Linked DNA regions of Homo sapiens. The protein of the gene in region 1 purifies or fractionates together with the protein of each later gene. This does not show direct contact. Each region holds a gene or a part of one and is shown on either strand. Other genes may lie near its edges.

What was found. The genes of interacting proteins can lie anywhere in the genome.
Region 2: the proteins of NUSAP1 (region 1) and UBE4B fractionate together in Homo sapiens (co-fractionation; one large-scale study listed by BioGRID). This does not show direct contact.

Annotation. Positions count from the first base shown.
Region 1 is NC_000015.10:41,339,381-41,342,880, reverse strand, and holds part of NUSAP1 (nucleolar and spindle-associated protein 1), read right to left. Parts: intron 496-3,500; coding exon 427-495; intron 1-426. UniProt on the Homo sapiens protein: Microtubule-associated protein with the capacity to bundle and stabilize microtubules. May associate with chromosomes and promote the organization of mitotic spindle microtubules around them.
Region 2 is NC_000001.11:10,130,458-10,133,957, forward strand, and holds part of UBE4B (ubiquitin conjugation factor E4 B), read left to right. Parts: intron 1-42; coding exon 43-159; intron 160-257; coding exon 258-356; intron 357-1,911; coding exon 1,912-2,025; intron 2,026-3,500. UniProt on the Homo sapiens protein: Ubiquitin-protein ligase that probably functions as an E3 ligase in conjunction with specific E1 and E2 ligases. May also function as an E4 ligase mediating the assembly of polyubiquitin chains on substrates ubiquitinated by another E3 ubiquitin ligase.

The DNA.
Region 1 (3,500 bases):
GATCTCTTTTTTAATAAACAGCATATCTTTTTTTTTGTTTTTTGAACGGAGTCTTGCTCTGTCACCCAGGCTGGAGTACAGTGGCGCGATCCTGGCTCACTGCAACCTCCACCTCCCGGGTTCAAGCAATTCTCCCTGTCTCAGCCTCCTGAGTAGCTGGGATTACAGGCTCCCGCCACCACATCTGGCTAATTTTTGTATTTTTAGTAGAGACGGGGTTTCACCATGTTGGCCAGGCTGGTCTCGAACTCCTGGACTCAAGTGATCCGCCTGCCACTGCCTACCAAAGTGCTAGGAGTATAGGCGTGAGCCACAACACCTGGCCAACAGCATGTCTTAAATCATCACTAGTTGTGTGTTAATTGCCCATTAACCAAATATGATTATTTTGCTAGCTAACAGGTAAACATGAAAAACATTACTCACCTGATTCTCATTTCCTTTTCTTGCCTCATGTTTAATGTAGCCTTTCAAGGCTTTTAACAACTTGGTTGCCTGCAAGAGAGACCTTATTATTAGAGCCAAAAGTCAAATAAACAAGGAAGATACGTTGAATATTTTTTGCTGTTCTTGTATTCATTAAATGTACTCTGGTCAGACCATAGGACTAGAACCATTACTTAGAAAGAATGGGTCTCTGCTCTAAGGAATTTCACATCTGAGTGGGAAAGTTAGACAAGGAAAGAGGCAATTGCAATACAGTGGGGTAAATGCCCACGCTAGGAGGCTCAGGCTGTCATGAGAACATAGGTAGGCATGGCCATCAAAGTTGGGACTGCTAGGTTAGACTTCAGCAAGTATCTGCACAGGGCAGTTCTCAGATAAAGATGTGATGTCTCTAATTGCTGAGATCTGAAGGATGAAGAGAAGGTAGAGAAAGAGGTAGAGGAATGGCACAGCAAGGCAACAATGAGGGTGGAGTTTGAAGAACTTAAGTTCAGTGTGGCTGGAACATGGACCTGTTTGTAGGAGATAGTAAGAGACAATGTTGGGAAAGTGAGCAGGGCCGTGATGTTACCAGGCCTTGTAAGCCTTTAAAGAGTATGAACTTTACTCTCAGAGAAAAGGGCAGTCTCTGAAGAGTTTGCAGCAAGGCAGTGGGTGACCAATTTTGCATTACTCAGAATGAGTAGTCTACCTGCACAATGTGCAAGATGCATTTGATGGGGATGAGCCAGAAATGCTGTGGCCTGAACTGGAGCGGGGCTAAGGCAGTATGGATGAAGTCAAAACCTTCTTAGGAAGTGAAATCAGTGTGAACATGAGAGTTGAGGAAGAGGGAAACTTTGTTATGCCAACGTTTCTGGCTTGGACAGCTGGTGAAGTGTGGTACGGTCCCTAAGATGAGGAATGCAAAAGGTGACGGGGTCTTAGGGGGATGGTTGTAGGTCTCTGCCGGGGGAAGGGAACACTGAGCTTCTCTTCCCAGCCTAGGAAAACCTCCCTTCTTGTTCTTTCCTGAAAGAACAATGTTAATTTGATTGGTTACATTTTCCTGTGCTTTAAAAGTCAAGTTTGGTTGAGCGGGGTGGCTCATGCCTGTAATTCCAGCACTTTGGGAGGCCGAGGCAGGTGGATCACGAGGTCAGGGGTTTTAGACCAGCCTGGCCAACATGGTGAAACCCCGTCTCTAATAAAAAAACAAAAATTAGCCGGGCATGGTGGTGTGTGCCTGTAGTCCCAGCTACTTGGGAGGCTGAGGCAGAAGAATTGCTTGAACCCAGGAGGCGAAGGTTGCAGTGAGCCGAGGAGATGATGCCACTGCACTCTAGTCTGGGCGATAGAGCAAGACTCCGTTTAAAAAACAAAAGTCAAGTTTTTTGGTTGGGTTCTTTTTTTCTTCCTCTTCCACCCAGCCATGCAGTTGAGGGCCACAGCCATCCTTCTCAAGGTGGGCCCAGCCACCAGGCTTGGCTCTATTCTTCTCATGCCTTTTATCATGGGCCATGTGTCCAGTAGAGAATAGCAGAGATCCTGAAATTTGGTTTGTGCTCAAGCTTTTGCTTGTGGTGCAAGCCTAAGCCACAGTCTCCAATCCACTTTACCAGAATGCTCTGCATCAAGATATCAGGCACTATTTCAGCTAGTAATAAAGTGGTACCTTATTTTCTACTTGTTCCTTGAACCACCCTTGAGGTTTTCTCTGGGAAGGGGATGATTGGCAGGGCAGAATTCAGGCATTCTTGATTTTTCTAATACTCTCTTAATATACCTTCAAAATCTCACCAAACATACAAAAATGCATGAAGTGAGGCACCTGTGGCAGAACCCAGTGAGGAGGTTGAATGATATGAGGTGGTGTTCAAGAGTTGTGCTGAAGGTGCAGATGTTAGTTATCAGCATATATTCATGCATTCCTTCAACAAGCATTTATTGTGCTGGGCACTGTTCCAGACACTAGAGAGTGATTAATTAAACAGACAAGGTGATTGCCCTCCAGGATCTTCTAGCAGAGGTGAAACAGTTACCCAAGAAAGCTAGAAATGAATGATATGACGTCAGGTATTATGATGCAAAAATAAAACTGGGCAACTGGGGTGGGGTGGGGATGCTACCTGAATTAGGATGGCTGGGAAAGGCCTCCCGAGATGTGAATGAGGAAAGAGGCAGCAGGTGAAGAGCACTCCGAGCAGAGCGAGCGCCAAGAACAGGAGCCCTGAGGTGGACTCATGAGTTGAAAGACAGAAACTGCCCTTATGGTAGAAGTATGGTGAACACTGAGGTATATGGAGGGCAGGGAGATCAGAGATGTGACCAGAGGCTGGGTCAAGTAGAGAGGTAAAGGCCACAGCAAAAATTATGAATTTCAGCCAGGTACAGTGACTAATGCCTGTAATCCTAGCACTTTGGGAGGCCGAGGCAGGAAGATCACCCAAAGTTAGGAGTTCAAGACCAGCCTGGCCAACAGGGTGAAACCCCATGTCTGCAAAAAATAGCTGGGCGTGGTGGTGGGCACCTGTAGTCTGAGCTACTCAGGAGGCTGAGGCGGGAGAATCACTTGAACCTGGGAGGTGGAGGTTGCAGTGAGCCGGAATCGCACCACTGCACTCCAGCCTGGGTGACAAGAGCGAAAGTCTGTCTCAAAAAAAATAAAAAAATAGAAAAAAAATTAATTTCTTCCCCTAAATTGTTATTAGAAAAAAAGTCAGGCCTATAGAAAAGTCAAAGTAGGCTGGGTGTGGTGGCTCACGCCTGTAATCCCAGCACTTTGGGAGGCCTGAGGCAGTCAGATCACCTGAGTTCAGGAGTTCCAGACCAGCCTGAACAATATGGAGAAACCCTGTCTCTACTAAAAATACAAAATTAGCTGGGCATGGTGGCACATGCCTGTAATCCCAGCTACTTGGGAGGCTGAGGCAAGAGAATTGCTTGAATCCAGGAGGTGGAGGTTGCAGTGAGCTGAGATCATGCCGTTGCATTCTAGCCTGGGCAACAACAGCGAAACTCCGTCTCAAAAAAAAAAAAAAAAGAAAAGTCGAAGTAATGTAATAAACACTCAT
Region 2 (3,500 bases), on another chromosome or scaffold:
GCCTGTTCAGCGGCTTGACTGGCTCTTCCATCTTCTGCCTAGGTTGCTTCTTTGCGGTTGTGGTTGCCGAAATCCTTAAGTCCTGGCTGTGGGCGGGAGCTGCAGAGACTCTCTTACTTAGGGGCTTTCTTTAGCTTCTCAGTCTTTGCAGAAGATGATGTAAGTATAGTGGCTACTTGTACTTTGCTGCCCTTTTATTCAGATTCTTTCCCAAATGTGCATTATATGTTGACTGCATTTTTTCCTTCTCTTTCCAGGTTAAAGTGGTTGAAAAATACTTCTCAGGGCCTGCCATTACCCTGGAAAACACTCGTGTGGTTAGCCAATCATTGCAGCATTACTTAGAGCTCGGAAGGGTAAGTGTTCAGAAAACAAATCCAGAGGAAGTATCAAAGATGAGCTCCAGATACAGAGCTTTTATTTTGTAGACTGGACTATGCCCAGTAGACAAACGGCTAACAAAAGCCAATTCGATCTTACATAAAAAAGATAAACTATAAGTAAGTAGCCTGTGTCTTGAATAACAGGTTGTAACAACAGCAGTATGCTGCCTTTGTATGTAGCATCACTGGGAACTGGTCCTAAGCTTAGTGGCCCGGCTCCTCCTCCAGCTGGCCCTTAGGCATTTACACTGTGAGGGTGAGCAAGGATTGTTAGTTTGCACACACCCTCACTGACTTGCTTATCCCAAATGCAGATTAATATGTCTTCAATTCTCAAACTTAAAGGCAGAGAAGGGCCGGGTGTGATGGCTCATGCCTGTAATCCCAACACTTTGGGAGGCCGAGTGGGGTGGATCACCTGAGGTCAGGAGTTTGAGAACAGCCTGGCCAACATGACGAAACCCCGTCTCTACTAAAAATACAAAAATTAGCCAGGCATGGCAGCGCGTGCCTGTAATCCCAGCTACCTAGCTACTCGGGAGGCTGAGGCACAAGGATCACTTGAACCCAGGAGGTGGAGGTTGCAGTGAGCCAAGATCACGCCACTGCACATCAGCCTGGGCGACAGAGCAAGACTCCATCTCAAAAAAAAGAAACAGGCAAAGAAGTTACAGGCTTGGGTAACTAAGGTAATTTTGATCATGGGAAAGAAGTAACAAAGCCTATTTTATTAAAACTGTAACTGCCGGCTGGGCGTGTTGGCTAATGCCTGTAATCCCAACACTTTGGGAGGCTGAGATGGGCTGATCACGAGGTCAGGAAGTCATCCTGGCCAACATGGTGAAACCTCGTCACTGCTAAAAATACAAAAATTGGCCAAGGCAGGTGGATCACGAGGTCAGCAGTTTGAGACCAGCCTGACCAACATGGTGAAACCCCATCTCTACTAAAATACAAAAAAAATTAGCTGGGCATGGTGGCGGGTGCCTGTAATCCCAGCGACTTGGGAGGCTGAGGCAGGAGAATCGCTTGAAACCGGGAGGCGGAGGTTGCACTGAGCCGAGATGTGCCACTGCACTTTAGCCTGGGCAATAAGAGCAAAACTCCGTCTCAAAAAAAAAAACAACAAAAATGCAAAAACTAGCTGGGTGTGGCGGCGTGTGCCTGTAATCCCAACTACTCGGGAGGCTGAGGCAGGAGAATGGCTTGAACCTGGGAGGCGCAGGTTGCAGTGAGCTGAGATTGCACCACTGCACTCCAGCCTGGCAACAGAGCTAGACTCTGTCTCAAAAAAAAACAAAAAACTGTAACTGCCTACCTCCCCCACTCCATATTCTGCTTTCATGCTCATTACTTTGACATAGTTGGATGTGGATATTTCTTATATTCTTTCACTCAGGCTCTTCTAAAATGAGTAGAAGTGGGAGAGGAGAGAACGTGGGAAGTAGGCTAGCTGTTCGTGAAGTCAAAAAGGAATCATGTGCAAAATAGTTTTAATTTGTTTCTTCTTTTTAAAAATAAATTTCAGCAAGAGCTTTTTAAGATTCTGCATAGTATTTTGTTAAATGGCGAAACCCGTGAGGCTGCTCTCAGTTACATGGCGGCTGTCGTCAATGCCAATATGAAGAAAGCACAGATGCAGGTAGGATTCCTACAGACTGCTTTTCGCTGTTTGTCAAATTCATTCATCTGACCCAGATTTAGTCAGCACCTACCAGGCACTGTTCTAGGAGTGGGGGTACAGTATTGAACAAGGTAGACGAGCTTCCTGCTTTTGTGGAGCCCATGTTCCACAGAATAAACAAGTAGACATATAAATACATGATTTTAGACAGTTGTATAATCAGTGAAGAAAATAGAGCAAAGTAAATGACATGAGAAGAACTGTAGGTACCAGAAGGAAGATCTGAAGGTGATTTTTGATTGGGTGGCAGGAAAGGCCTCCCTGAGGAGGTGACATTTGTTTCATAGGAAGGAGCCAGCCATTGTAGTGGCTGAGAAAAGAGCTATCCAATGTGGAAACGAAGCAGCTTTGGTACAAGCCCAGCACGCAGGCTTTTGTGGCTGGAGAAGAGTGAACAGGAGGGAATGTCGGGTCCTGGAGTTAGTGGATAGGCAGGGCGCCATCGGGTTAGGTTTACGTGATCAGAACTGTCATGGGAGGGTTTTCAGCAGGGAAACCACAAAAGCTGCTATGTAGACGGACCAAAACAGAAGGGGGCAGCCAGGAACAGACCCAAGGGGGCAGCCAGGAACAGACCCAAGAAGGCAGCTGCAAGGGCGTGAGTGCTTCGGTCCGGGTGAGACAGGCCAGTGGCTGCAGCTGCTTTGCCAGAGGAGAAAAGGGCATCCTTCCTTGACTAGTAATAAATAATGAATGAATGATGTGATGTGTATACTCAGAAGCAAAAATCATGTAGAGAGAAGAGCACAGATCTTGTGATTTCTGATCGTGGTTCCACCGTTTACTAACTGCGGGACCTTAGACAGTGACTCCTCTGTGCCTCCATTTCCTCATCTGCTAAGCTGCGGTACTACTGGTACTGGGTTTATTATATATAAAGCTGTTAGAGTGGTGCCTGGTACACAGTGATCACTCAACCAATATTAACTATCATTCTTATCATTGTTGTATTATTATTTTTTTCTTAACAGAGGTAATCAAGTTACATTGTTATATTGCTAATGCAGGAGCATGCTGATGCTGTCACCTAGAGAAACAATGTCACATGATAAGAAGTGGAGCAACTTGTTTTGATGCTCTTGAGGGAAATAAAGAGGAGAAAGAGGCCGGGCATGGTGGCTCACGCCTGTAATCTCAGCACTTTGGGAGGCCGAGGTGGGAGGATCACTTGAGCCCAGGCATTTGAGACCAGCCCTGGCGACATAATGAGACCCCATCTCTACAAAATATACAAAAGTCATCTGGGCATGGTGGCTGGTGCATGCCTATAGTTTCAGCTACTTGGGAGGCTGAGGCAAGAGGATCACTTGAGCCAGGGAGGTCGAGACCAGCCTGGGCAACATAGGGAGACCCTGTCTCTACAAAAAAAATAAAAAATTAGCCAGTATAGTGGCATAGACCTGTAGACCCAGTTATTCAGGAGGCTGAAGTGG